Homo sapiens: one gene and its partner. The protein of the gene in region 2 binds, or shares a complex with, the protein of the main gene of each other region. Each region holds a gene or a part of one and is shown on either strand. Other genes may lie near its edges.

Region 1 (7,036 bases), on a different chromosome or scaffold from region 2:
ACACCTGTAATCCCAGCGCTTTGGGAGGCCAAGAAGGGCGGATCACTTGAGGTCAGGAGTTTGAGACCAGCCTGGGCAAGATGGTAGAACCCCATCTCTACTAAAATTACAAAATTAGCTGGGCATGGTGGCATACGCTTGTAATCCCAGCTATTTGGGAGGTTGAGGCGGGAGCATCACTGGAACCTGGGAGGCAGAGGTTGCAGTGAGGTGAGATTGCACCACTGCACTCTAGCAAGGGTGACAGAGTAAGACTCCATCTCAAAAGATAGATAAATAAATAAATAATAAATAAATAAATAAATAAATATGTCCCATTGGGTGTGAAAAGAAAACTTTAGAACTTTTTGTTTTATCTTATCTGGTTTTATTTCTATTTTTGGGTTCACTGTAATGCACATAATTTATAAAACCCCCAAATACACATGCATTTGAGCTGTGCTCAAAAATTTATTTCAATGGCTATTTTTATTTTGAAATAATCTCATACTTTTAAAAAGTTGCAAGTATAATATAAAACCTTTTTTTCTGAACCATTTGAGAGTAACTCCAAAATGATGTTCCATCATCCAAAAACACTTTAATGCATATTTCAAGGCATTGTGTGTATTCAAGGCAAAATGTGTATTACAAGGGCGTTATCCTGCATAATTCTTCTATGTAACCACAACATAACCACAAAATCAGGAAATTAACACTGATGCTTTTTTTTTTTTTTTTTTTTTTTTGGAGACAAGAGTCTCGCTGTCGCCCAGGCTGGAGTGCAGAGGCATGATCTTGGCTCACTGCGACCTCTGCCTCCCGGGTTCAAGCCATTCTCATGCCTCAGCTTCCTGAGTAGCTGGGATCACAGGCACACACCACCATGCCAGGCTACTTTTTGTATTTTTAGTAGAGATGGGGTTTCGCTATGCTGGCCAGACTGGTCTCAAACTCCTGACCTCAAGTGATCTGCCTGCCTCAGCTTCTCAAAGTGCTGGGATTACAGACGTGAGTCACCATGCCAGGCTAATACATTACTACATTCTAATCCTCAGACCCCATTCAAATTTCATTTGCTGTCCCAGTAAATGTCCTTTATAGCAAAAGGATCCAATCCAGAATCAGACAGTGCATTGAGTTGCCTTATCTCTTTCATCTCTTCCATCTGGAAGAGTTCATCAGTCTTTCCTTGACACGATCTTGACACTTGAAGACTGCAGGTCAGTATGTCCCTCAGTTGGGGTTTGTCTGATTACTAGGATATGCATCTTGGATAAGAATGCCACAGAAATGATTCTGTGTTCTCATTACAAGCTATTAGGTGACACCAGTCTTGACTTGTCCCATTACTGGTGATATTAACTTTGCTCAACTATATATATATGACATATCCAATCAATAAAGATCACCAATCTAGAAGACTGTACTGAGTAAGAACACTTCTCAACCTGGAAGCCTGGGAAGGGCATGAAATTTCCACCCATGGGGTCAAGAGATGACTCAATTGGAACAATTAAGGTGTGGGCTATCCCAGAGGCCAGAGCAGGACCTGGTGGCCTCTCAGGTACCTGAGATATTCAATAACCCAAGAGGGAGAGTGGGGCCTAGGCTGGGGCTTTGGGAGAGCCCTGGGTACAGTGATAAGAAACAAGTAAGCCATACGAAGCGGTTCTAGCCAGGCACGGTGGCTCATGCCTGTAATCCCAGCACTTTGGGAGGCCAAGTGGGTGGATCACAAGGTCAGGAGTTTGAGACCAGCCTAGCCAACATGGTGAAACCCCATCTCTACTAAAAATACAAGCATTAGCAGGGAGTGGTGGCACATGCCTATAATCCCAGCTACTCAGGAGGCTGAGGCAGGAGAATCACTTGAACCCGGGAAGCAGAGGTTACAGTGAGCTCAGATTGTGCCACTGCACTCCAGCCTGGGCAACAGAGTGAGACTCTGTCTCAAAAAAAGAAAAAGTGGTTCTGGTCTCCTCTCCTGGGCTGGAGAGATAACTGAGTCCCTTCGTCATCCCCAGGCAGGGCTGCGGACCATTGAGGAAGAGGCAGCCCCCGAGATCTGTCGCACGGTCTCAGGAGACCTGGCTGCTGAGGAGGAGCTGGAGAGAGCCATGGTGGAGGCTGCGATGGAGGAGGGAATATTCCGGGTGAGGGAGAGCCAGGAGCACCCCTAGTGGTCTAGACACCATGAGTGGCAGTGTCTCACAGAGAGGAGGGCTGGGAGCCCAGCCACACGAGAGGGGGACATGGGAGCTGAAGATACCCCACTCCGTCTCTCCACTTCACCACCCACCTCTCCTGGGACTCAGAATCAATGACCTGATCTACTAGAGGTGTCAAATGCAACACACTCTTTCCCACATTTCCCTACCAAATCTCACCCCTTCCCTTTCCTCCCCACAAACCCTAGGCAACGACCCATCTCCCAGAGGCCCTCCAGGATCAAATGCCCTGCCTGCCTCCACTGAGGCCAGTCCTCCATCCTTAGCTCTGTCTCATGTTTCTTATAACACTTTATTGCTGGAAGGTCTTTAATGACACCTAGTTAGGTCTTTTTGGGTTATTCATGAGGAAATAGTGGCCCACAGAGATCATGTGAGATGTCCAATATCACCTAGTAAATCAGTTTCAGAGCGGGGACTAGAACCCAGTGCTGCAGACTCCCGATTCAGCCCTCTCTCCCCTACACCACACTTCTCTTCTGTGTGCCTGTGTCCCCTATATACCTCCTTAGGTGTGTGCTGTCTACCCCATCAAACAAAGAACTTTCTAAGGGTGGGAATTTTCTTCTTTTGATCTCACCACTCAGTCCATCCTCCTTTGGCCTTATAAGATTTGTCTCCCAATACTATTGCTTGTTCCCAATACCACTGTCCCAGAGTGACAGCCCCCCATGCCCTCCCTGCCCTCACCCCCAGTCACTGCTCTTCTCCTTGCCCCTAGAGGACTGGAGGCCTGTTTGGCCAGGTGGACAACTTCCTGGAAAGGACCAACTCCCTGCCCCCCGTCATGGCCAATCAGAGACCCCTCCAGTTTGCTGAGATAGAGATGGAAGAGATGGAGTCACCTGTCTTCTTGGAGGACTTCCCACAAGATCCACGCACCAACCCCCTGGCTCGTGCCAATACCAACAATGCCAACGCCAATGTCGCCTATGGCAACAGCAACCATAGCAACAGCCATGTGTTTTCCAGGTAGTGGCGGCCACTGCCATCCCTGGGTGTAGAGGTACTGGGAGGACAATGTCAGCAGGTTCCAGGTTGGATTGGAAGAGGGTACCCCAAATTTGTAGGGTGTCTTTTGCTTGCCTTTGTGCCCCAATCCATCCTGAACCTTAATGTAAGAGGCCGACCTCGATGGCAGAGGCTTCTTTGGCCAGCAGGGGGAAGCCTCACATCATGTCAGTATTGGCCCCAGTGTTGAGAGGTTCTTTTATTCCGTCGGCTTCAGCAAGTCTAGGAGCTGAGACGTATTGAACACATGATAGGTTAGGAGAGGATCTTCGGTGGTAGCACATACCACAAAAGACTGTGGACAATAAGATTCCATCACTGGATTTAGGTTCCAAGGAGATCCCGCTGTGCTGGGTGGTTCCCATCTCACCAACCTTGGGCTGTAGACTAAATATAATCTGTGATTACGTAAGTGTCATAAAAAACAGCAGGATGAGGGGGAGAACTTCTCAGCAATCATAACTTAGGGGCTAGGCTCAGGCAAAGCTTCTGTTCTAGACAGGAGGTCAGCTGATTGGAGGCCTCTTCGGCCTGGAAAGGCTTAGCCCCAGGCCTCAGGAATAAGCAGAACAAGGCAGCAGCCAGCCCCTTTTCATGGCCAGGGCTGCCTGCACCCCTTCCAGTCACAGAGACCCCTTAAATTCAGCCCACAAGCCTTGAAGGGTGCATGTACCTTTTTGGGTCACCATGGTGCAAGGTAACGTGGAAATACAGAAGCATCAGCCCTGGGCCCTGCCCTGAAGGGGGTTGTCGTCTTGTTGGGTGATATGTTATGTGATATGATTGGGACCAAATAATCACAGAGGCCAGGAGTGGTGGCTCATGCCTGTAATCCCAGCACTTTGGGAGGCCTAGGCAGGTGGATCACTTGAGGTCAGGAGTTCGAGACCTGCCTGGCCAACATGGAGAAACCGTGTCTCTACTAAAAACACACAAAAAATTAGTCAGGTGTGGTGGCGCATGCCTGAAATCTCAGCTACTCGGGAGGCTGAGGCAGAAGAATCTCTTGAACTCAAGAAGTGGAGGTTGCAGTGAGCTGATTGTGCCACTGCACTCCAGCCTGGGTGAGAGAACAAGACTCCGTCTCAAAAAAACAAAACAAAACAAAACAAATAAACAAAAAACACCAAATAATAACAGATATTTAGTGTCCTGAGAGTGCAGAGGGGGTATGGATCACCATGGGCTGGAAAGACCTAGAATGGTTCTCAGCCTTGGCTGTGCATTAGATAATCCAGGGAGCTTCTGCAAATCCCAATGCCTGGGCCTCACCACAGATGCTGGGTGTGGGACTCAGCCACCACTCACCTTTGAGCTCCTCAGGTGATCCTATGTGTGGCCAAGATGGAGAAGCAGGGTTCCAAAGGCTGGGAGGCTGCAGCTGGGCCTTGGAAGATGAACAGAATGTAGAAAGGGTAGAGGGAGCAACTGAGCAAAGGAGTGGAGTCAGGAATGCTCTGGACTCCTTCCTCCTAGAGAGTCAGGGCTGGCTGGGGCACAGTGGTGGAAACGTCAGCCCTAGAGTCACGGCTGCTACACTAGGTTGGCCTTGTACAGGCTCTGAGGGAAAAGGATGTTTGGGGCCAGAGAGGCAGGGATGCCGAGAGAGCTAGCAGCCTTCTCTGGTTCACCCAGCCTTGCTTCCATTTCAGTGTCCACTATGAAAGGGAGTTCCCAGAAGAGACAGAGACGCCTGCTACCAGAGGACGAGCCCTTGGCCAACCCTGCAGGGTCCTGGGTCAGTCCCTTCTGTGCATCTAAGAAGCTTGAGTCTTCTCCCAGAGGAGTCCGGGAAGCCCCACTCTTTTCTTAGAGTCTGGGAACTTGGCTGGGAGGGCTGGCTTGGGAGCCTGTTACAATGGCAGTCATCTGGGCCCTGGAATGGGAAAACCATCAGGACCAGCTACTTGTCCAGGGGGGAAGCAGGGCACCATCTAGGTGGCTGAGTGAGGTGGAAGGGGGAAAGCCCATTCATGCTAAAGGGCCCTCTGCAGGCCTCCCAGGAAACTCACACAGCCCCCTACACCATCCCCAGCACAGGAGTCCCCACACCGCCCCAGGTCCCTGGAAGGGCAGCCCCTGGACACACTGACGTCTTGACTCTGGGGCCCTTCTGCAAATGATCTTGTAGTCTAGTATGTCCTAGACTGCTGTGTGACAGTAGGAGCCCCAAGGATGCTGGGGGCTAGTGGCAATAAGGATACTGCTGTGTTCCCCAACACACTTTCACTTTAATGTGCACACACCCAGGGACCACAGAGGACCAGCTTGGCCAGAGACTCTGGCCCTTATCCCCTCTCCCAAACCTTCAAGAACAGCGACCAGGGCCAGTAAAGTTGGGGCAGCCCTGCCTGGCCTGGAGTTGATTGGGCCTCATCATGTGTCCACCCTCTAAGACACCTTCTGCAGCCCTGAGAATCTCAGAGCTCTCACAGAGTGTGGCTAGCCAGCCAAGCGAGCCTCTGTTGACTCAGGGCTCCTGGCAGGAGTCAGCAGCCCCTCTTATCCTTGCCCCTTCTTGCATACAGGACCCCACAGCAAACCCTGTGTGGAGATGCTGAAGGGACTGCTGACCCAGAGGGCAATGCCCAGAGGCCAGGCACCTCCTGCCCCCTGCCAGGTAACAGTGGCAGAGGCCTGGGAGCAAACTCCATACAGAGACCCTGCCTGGCCTGATACTTGGAGTGGGATCATGGCAGGGGAAGGCTGTGGCAGCAATGTGTCCAACAGTACAGAAGGGACGGGATCCCTCCATCCTCCCCTTTCTGTGGATCTTGGTTGAGTTGCCCTCAGATGATCTGGAATTTTGCTCATTGGTGGGCTCCAGCACCCCTGTCGGGGTCTTTGCTTTTGTACCTTTGGAACAGTGCCCCAGGGTGGAGTCCTCCATGCCTGAGGACAGAAAGAGCTCCACACCAGGGTCTCTTCATGAGGAGACACCCCACAGCAGGAGCACCAGGGAGAATACTTCCAGGTGCTCAGCACCAGCTACAGCCCTGCTGATCCAAAAGGTGAGCCAGGGGCTGGGTCACAGCAGTGGCTGCATTGAGTGGTGGCCCTGTGATGGCCTGGCGTGGAGAGAGGGTAGGGCCAACAGAGGCAGGTCCCCAAATGTGGCTCCCCAGGAAGACCCCACTCAGCCTACTCTCCTCCCTGCAGGCTCTGGTTCGAGGGGGCCTGGGCACCTTGGCAGCTGATGCAAACTTCATCATGGCAACAGGCCAGGCCCTGGCAGATGCCTGCCAAATGGAACCAGAGGAAGTGGAGATCATGGCAACAGAGCTACTGAAAGGACGAGAGGCCCCAGAGGGCATGGCCAGCTCCCTGGGATGCCTGAACCTCGGGTCCTCCCTGGGCAGCCTCGACCAACACCAGGGCTCCCAGGAGACCCTTATTCCTCCAAGGCTGTGATGCCCACACAGCATCAGCATGGGCTTAGAGCTGGCATGACCAATGGGGGTGGGGAAGTTGCTGGGGTGGAGAAGGGCTAGCCCACCGCAGCAGCCTCCCTCCCTCTCAGCAGCTAGATGCATGGCCTGAGGCAGGGTGGTCAGGAACCACCTCAAAAAGTGCGGAGGAAGTAGCTGGACAGGCCCTGCCCCTCACCAGCAAGAGGCATGATTGGATGGAGCTTCTAATGTCATTCAAAAAGGCCTGGTCAGTGCCTGTCTGGCCTAGGGCCACTCCCACCTGCAGGACATTAAAATCTCCAGGCCTGTGACACTGGCAACTGGCCTCTGCTTGTCCAGTTTTTTGGACTCTTCTACACCTGTGTTTCCCCCTCCCCAGTCCCTTCCCCAGGAACCCTGCCCATG
Region 2 (7,036 bases):
CGAGACTTCGTCCCCCCTCAAAAAAAAAAAGAGAGAAAGAAAGATAAAAGTAAATGTTTCAAAATTTGTGAATCTGAAAAAAATTAGACTGTACACTTAATTTATTTTTTATTTTTTAATAGAGACAGGGTCTTGCCATGTTGCCCAGTCTGGTCTCCAACTCCTGAGCTCAAGTGATCCACCTGCCTCAGCCTCCCAAAGTGCTGGGATTACAGGTGTGAGCCACCAAGCCTGGCTTATAGACTTTAAATGGCTGAACTTAATGGTATGGGAATTCTACCTCAATAAAATGTTAAAAAGTTAGTGAATCCTGGTGAAGAATATTCAAAAAATAAGATTTTTTTGATACTATTCTTGCCACACTTCTGTAAATCTGAAATTATTTGAAAATGAAAATCTTCTTACAAAATGGAACAGATATAGTTCTGGGATACCAAGCGTTTATTTTTATTTATTTATTTATTTATTTTTGAGACAGAGTCTTGCTCTGTCACCCAGGCTGGAGTGCAGTGATGCAATCTCGGCTCACTGCAACCTCCGCCTCCTGGGTTCAAGCAATTCTTGTGCCTCAGCCTCCTGAGTAGCTGGAATTACAGGTGCCCACCACCATGCGCAGCTAATTTTTTGAATTTTAGTAGAGGCAGGGTTTCATCATGTTGCCCAGGCTGGTCTTGAACTCTTTAGCTCAGGCAATCCGCCGGCCTCGGGCTCCCAAGGTGCTGAGATTACAGGTGTGAGCCACCGTGCCTGGCCCAATACCAAGCATTTTTCATGGTTAACCCATTTATTTAATCTTCACAAACCCAGTATGCCTATGCTGCAGATGAGGAAACCAAGGCATAGAGATGTTTGGCCGCTTGCCAAAGGAACACAGAGCCAGTAAGTGACAGCCCTGGAGTAGAAGGTCCAGGCTGCCTGGTTCCAGAGTCCCTCCTCTTAACCTCAGTGGGGGAAATGGAAGCATTGGTTACTTTCTAGTTCAGTGTTTTTGCATCCATTATCTCATTTGGTCCTTTCAACTCCCCTCAGGAAGTACTTAAATCCCATCATCCCCTTTATCTCATTAGAAACAGAGGACTCAGAAAGGTTAAGTAGGCTGGGCGCGGTGGCTCACGCCTGTAATCCCAGCACTTAGGGAGGCTGAGGCAGGAGAAATCACTTGAGGTCAGGAGTTTGAGACCAGCCTGGCCAACATGGTGAAAACCTGTTTCTACTAAAAATACAAAAATTAGCCAGGTGTGGCCGGGCACAGTGGCTCACACCTGTAATCCTAGAACTTTGGGAGGCCGAGGCCGGTGGATCACGAGGTCAGGAGTTCAAGACCAACCTGACCAACATGGTAAAATCCCGTCTCTACTAAAAATATAAAAATTAGCCAGGTGTGGTGGCATGCACCTGTAGTCCCAGCTACTCAGGAGGATGAGGCAGAGGAATCACTGGAACCCAGGAGGCGGAGGTTGCAGTGAGCAAGATCGCACCACTACACTCCAGCCTGGGTGACAGAGTGAGACTCCTTCTCAAAAAGAAAAAAAAAAAAAGCCAGGTGTGGTGTGTGCCCGTAATCCTAACCCCAGCTACTCGGGAGACTGAGGCACAAGAACCACTTGAACCTGGGAGGCGGAGGCTGTAGTGAGTGAGATCGCACCACTGCACTCCAGCCTGGGTGACAGGGCAAGGCTGTCTCAAAAAAAAAAAAGGTTAAGTAACTGGTCCAGGGAGCCCAGCTCATGGGATGATAATGGTTACCACTATTGGCTGCCCTCATAAATCAGAGAGTAGGCTGGGTGCGGTAGCTCACTCCTGTAATCCCAGCACTTTGGGAGGCCGAGGTGGGCAGATCACGAGGTCAGGAGATCGAGACCATCCTGGCCAACATGGTGAAACCCTGTCTCTACTAAAAAATACAAAAAATTAGCCGGGCCGTGGTGGTACACTCCTGTAGTCCCAGCCACTCAGGAGGCTGAGGCAGGAGAATCGCTTGAACCTGGGAGGTGGAGGTTGCAGTGAGCTAAGATCGCGCCACTGCACTCCAGCCTGGTGACAGAGCAAGACTCTGTCTAAAATAAATAAATAAATAAATAAATAAATAAATAAATAAATAAATAAATCAGAGAGTATACTGGGCTCCTTACAGCAATCCTCTCAACAATAACACGAGAGGGATTACAACCCCACTTTATAGGTGAAGAAATAGAGAATCAGAGGCTAAATAATTCCCCCAAGATTCCAAGTTCAATAAAAAACAACCAACAATAAGAATAAATCAATACGTAAACCAATCAGAGCTTGAATTTCAAGCCCATGCTGTCTTCTAACTTCAAATCCTCCACCTCAACTCTTCCTCCGTGTTTCTCAGATCCCCACTGGCATCTAGAAGGGAAAGTTAATGGTGCTGCAATACAAGGAAAAAGTAAGGCGGCCTTCCTACCGATTTCCCCTCTATCAAAGTCCAAATGAGGACACTGCAGCAAAAAGGGCTGATATCAAGAGAGGAAAGCAGCCTGGGCAACACAGCTAATCCCATCTCTAAAAAATAAAAATATTAGCCAGGCATGGTGGTGGACACCTGTAGTCCCAGCTACGTGGGAGGCCGAGGTGGGTGGATTGCTTTAGCCCAGGAGGTAGAGGCTGCAGTGAACTATGATTGCATCACTGCATTCCAGCCTGGGTGACAGAGCGAGATCCTGACTTAAAAAAAAGAAGAAGAAGAAGAAGAAGAAGAAGAAAGGAAAGACCTCCCAACTGCCAAGTAGCTGGGTGGCACTGGAACAAAAAGCACAGAATTCTTTCAGTCCAAGGGTGGGAAGTCAATCAGAGTGGAGACAGGGGACTGGTCTGCATGACCCTAATAATAGTAAATAATAGCTAACATGTTGTATCAGACCATTTGCTAAGTGCTATACATTCATATGAGGTTGAAACACTTGACAATACGATGGAGCTTTACAGAGAAGGAAACTAAGACTCAGGCAGATTAATTCACGTAATTAGTAAGCAGTGGAGCTGGGATTTAAACCCAAGCAGCCCTTTCAAACCACGCTGTCCTGGCCAGGGTCAGGCTCCTGCACCCACCTTGGGAGAGGTGATCTTGATGTAAACAATGATGGGGGCCAGCGAGGTCTTGGACAGCTGGGCTGGGTGATTGATGGTGTCAGCATCCAGAGCGACCAACTGAAGGGTCCGGGCCAGCTCGAAGATTCGCTCGATTTCACTCTGCACCTCAGCTGGGGGCATGGAGTCATGTGGATGGGGGAATGTCAGGTGGCCTCCCAGGAACAGCAGGTGGAGGGAACACTTCTGGAGATGGCCCTGCCCACTACCTCCCACACCTCCCACCCCTCCCACATCCGGCCCAGAAAGGGGGAGTGAAGACAGCAGGAGTAGGCTCACCCAGGCTGGAGCGTGTGTTGGAGCGCTCAATGATGATGTGTTTGCTGGGGTTGTTGAGAACTGAGCGCTTAGCCAGGGAAATATCTGCCGTCACACGAGTGATGGAGATCCTGGGGAATGGGGCAAGAGGGGAGTCAGGGGTCAGGGTGGGCTGGAATGCCCTGCCCACTCCCCAGTTCCAGGCCCGCCTTCTGTTCCTCAGTCCGAGTCCCAGGATTGTGATTCGAGGCATCCTGCCCATCCCCAGCAGCAGAGAGCAACGGCAGGTGCGAGGAGCAGCTCCCAGGATCTTACCTGCCATCAAACCGATGCTTCAAGAAGTCAAATAAAGCTTTCTGCATCATGTCTGTAACCTGGGGGTGGGGGTTTGTGGGGAGGGAGGGAGGAGAAGGCAGGCATTTAAAGCCGCTCAGACTCTGAGTCGCTGGGTATTTGTACCCTCACGTTCCACTTTCTTCTGGACAGGCCTTTACGGCGGGCGGGGGTCTGAGTCTGAGGGGCCTCCACTGGGGTCTCTGGTTCCAAGGTCCCTGTAAGTGGCATCTCTGGGAGGGCTCTTCTGAGGGTTTCTTTGGGGGACGGGGCTCCTCTGAGTGGGTCTTTCTGTGGATTGGGCCCCCTGGGGGTTGTCTCTGAAAGTCTGTAGCCCTCCTGGGAGGATGCCTTGGGATCGGGCCCTTCTAGGGGATCTCTCTGGGGTCTGAAGATCTTTCTAAGGCCCCTCTGCATCCACTCCCCTCTAGGAAGTCCTACCTCGTAGCCCTTGAGCGACGGTCCCACCAGGATGATGGGCCTCATGGAAGGCACCACGTCATAGGGGGGCACATGCTCTGTCTGGGGGGGGAAGCAGGGAGGGGAAACCCCAGAGTGGAGATGACATTAGATCCTCTCCCCCAGACTCCAGGCTCCCCCATGCAGCCTTCCCCCACCCTGGTCCCAGAGCCCAGATGTAGGGATCAGGGTGGGGGTGGGGAGGGATGGCCAGGGAGAACCAGGAAGGGTGGGGGAAATGGGGGACAGATGTGGGAATGGGTGTTAGAAGGTCCCCCTAGCTCATCCCAGGGAGTGGGGAGGAGGACACAGAAAGCTGTGATACTCACCGACTTCTGCTTCTGTTTGGCTGGGTCCAGAGATTGCCAAGAGAGGGAAGGGGGAGGAGAGAGGGAAGGGGACCCAGGCAGGGGCAGAGGGCAAGGCAGGAGCCAGGACAAGAGAGGGAGGGAGAGCCGGGCAGACGAGGAGAGATAACAGGGCATGCGTGTTAGTGACAGACAGAGCCAGAGACGGGGAACGGGACCCCACGCCAAGGGGGAGCCAGAGGTGGCCCTGGATCAGGGCTGGGAGCAGGACTGACAGTCAGTCCAGTGGATGTGGGAATATTCAGACATATCCTACCCTCTTCTGGGTCTTGGAAAAGAGCTGGAGAGGGTGACAGCCCCTATCTTGTTGCCCATCTCCTGCCCCCAGTGCATGCCAACATGCCCATTTTAGGGGTTCCCTTAACTGTCTTGCTTTGCAGCCAGCAGCCCCCCCCCACTATGTGCCCACCCAGAGAGTCAAAAAAGGGCAAAGAAGGAATGCCATCCCATGTCCTGCTTCACATGCCAAGGTAGACACCAACACCAGAGCAGGCCCCTGGGAGTGAGGGGAGAGGTCAGGGTTCATGACCACCAAACCCTGCTGCCCCAGGTGTGGGGGCAACCTTCCAAGGGCAAGATCTCCTTCCTGGAGATCGGGCCAGGGTGGAGTTGTGTGTGGAGGGGGATGTGCCCATGCTACCCTTCCCTCCACCTCAGCAGGAAGCCCTGATGCCCACAGAACAGGTTGGTACCACATCTGAATCCATTACAGCCCCCTTCCCTCCACCAAAGTGCTGGCCCTGACTCCCCCACCTCTTGCAAGAACACAGCGAGAATTACCTTCTTAAAGAAGGGGATGCGTTTGCCATGGGGTGGCGGGGTGGTGACACTGCTAACACTAGTCTTGGCAGAGCCACTCTGCTCACCAAGCTCAGCCTCTTCCTCCTCTAACTCTAGGGGGTCTAGTTCAAAGGCTAAGTTAGTCATTTCATTACCTGGACCGGAGAGTCAGGAGAGAGGGAGGAGGGAGGCGAGGTGGGGAGAAGGAGTGAGATGAACGTGGAGACACAAGTACAGAACGCAGGGATGGGGATGGGGAAAAAAGAAAGAAGAAGAGGTGAATGGAACAGGGCTGGGAGAAATGAATGGGGGCAGGGCAGGGGAATCAGGCAGAGAGATGGAGCTACCAAAGAAAAGGGAGAGGAGAGACATGACAGGCCCAGCTTGAGGGGTAGCCTACTCTTCATGGAGGGGGAACCACTGCATGTGCTTGGGGGACTCAGGATTGGGGTGTTTCCTACTGCAGGGAAAGGAGGATTCAGGGAGTGGGGAGACCACCCCACCCAGGAGCTTCTTCCCAAACCCCTGCATGGCGATGGCTCTTACCACTGGCAGGGGGTGTGGGGCGGCGGGTGCCAGTCACCACATCTCCCAGACTGGAACTGGAGTTATCGCCTGATTTGCTGTGTGGGCAGAGGCAAACCGAGCTTGTGAGCAAAGAGGTGGGCGTGGGGGGCTCTCATCCTCTCACATGCGGCACCCCCGGAGGTGCTCCAGCCCCACTGGTGATGCCACAGGCAGCTCTGTGCCCTCAGGGCCAGGGACAACCATTGAGGCCTAGTCCAGGCTGTATGGCCTCTCCTGGGGTTGGCAGCATCCCCTTCCCCTGCCCCACCCAGACACCTGGAGCCGAGGCGGTTCTGGCGCAGCTTCTGTTCCTGCAGCAGGCGAAGGCTGTCCAGTTTGACGGGGCTGGGAATGAAGCCAACCTCACAGCCCTCCTTCACCAGCCGCCCGATCCACCAGTCATTATTGTATTTCTGCAAAGAATATGGCAGGTGGGTGGAAAGAGCAAGAGGGAAACTGCAGGGGCAAGCTAGCAGTCACTCTCTAGGGGAAACGCCCAGACTCACCTCCCAGCCCAGGGGTGGCACCCTCAAAAATCCCCAGCCCTGGCTCCAGCCTCTGAGTGGAGCTGCCAATTCTCAGGACAACTCCAGGACCAGCATGCTTTCTGGCCATGGACCACCCTGCCACCGGCCCAATGCAATTCTGAGAGTCCTTCTCCCCATGTGCCCACCCTACTCTACAAAGGCCGCTGGAGTAAATGCGGATACCTACATGTCCCTGGCACACCGCCATGCCAGTTCAGGCCCCCTAACAAACCCTCCCAACAACCTTCTGACCTAAGCATTACCACCTCATTTTTCCAGTAGAAAATTAAGAGGCTCAGAGAGGTGGAGAGATTTGTCTAAGGTCACACAGCAGATTCAGCCTGGCTCTGCTTGGCTCAGAAGCCTTTTGTCCACTAGCACTCTGGCTGCCTGTCTCCTGGCACCCACTTCCCTGCCCTCCCTCCAGATACCCACCTCCTTGATGTGCAGGAAGTCTTTGGGCTCGAAGGTGATGGCCACTCCCTGCACAGGCACCTCATCCCCTGGAGACGGATTGTAGCCAACATTTGTCCGCACAGCAAATGCCACTGGCTTGGTCTAGAGGAGGCACACAGGGGAGGATGGCAACTAGAGGGCAAACCACAATGTAATGTACAACTTCCTGACAGTAGT

What was found. Proteins that work in one complex are often made in the same cells at the same time.
Region 1: CACNB1 (region 2) and CACNA1S share a complex: the UniProt entries of both Homo sapiens proteins name them as parts of the calcium channel complex.

Annotation. Positions count from the first base shown.
Region 1 is NC_000001.11:201,039,427-201,046,462, reverse strand, and holds the end of CACNA1S (voltage-dependent L-type calcium channel subunit alpha-1S), read left to right. Parts: intron 1-2,006; coding exon 2,007-2,135; intron 2,136-2,931; coding exon 2,932-3,182; intron 3,183-4,873; coding exon 4,874-4,959; intron 4,960-5,749; coding exon 5,750-5,841; intron 5,842-6,088; coding exon 6,089-6,232; intron 6,233-6,380; coding exon 6,381-6,632; 3' UTR 6,633-6,951; downstream 6,952-7,036. UniProt on the Homo sapiens protein: Pore-forming, alpha-1S subunit of the voltage-gated calcium channel that gives rise to L-type calcium currents in skeletal muscle.
Region 2 is NC_000017.11:39,180,641-39,187,676, forward strand, and holds part of CACNB1 (voltage-dependent L-type calcium channel subunit beta-1), read right to left. Parts: intron 6,962-7,036; coding exon 6,839-6,961; intron 6,290-6,838; coding exon 6,153-6,289; intron 5,933-6,152; coding exon 5,856-5,932; intron 5,465-5,855; coding exon of another isoform or gene 5,310-5,464; intron 4,511-5,309; coding exon 4,491-4,510; intron 4,225-4,490; coding exon 4,144-4,224; intron 3,744-4,143; coding exon 3,685-3,743; exon of another isoform or gene 3,593-3,684; intron 3,501-3,592; coding exon 3,391-3,500; intron 3,225-3,390; coding exon 3,073-3,224; intron 2,371-3,072; coding exon of another isoform or gene 2,353-2,370; exon of another isoform or gene 2,001-2,352; intron 1-2,000. UniProt on the Homo sapiens protein: Regulatory subunit of L-type calcium channels. Regulates the activity of L-type calcium channels that contain CACNA1A as pore-forming subunit.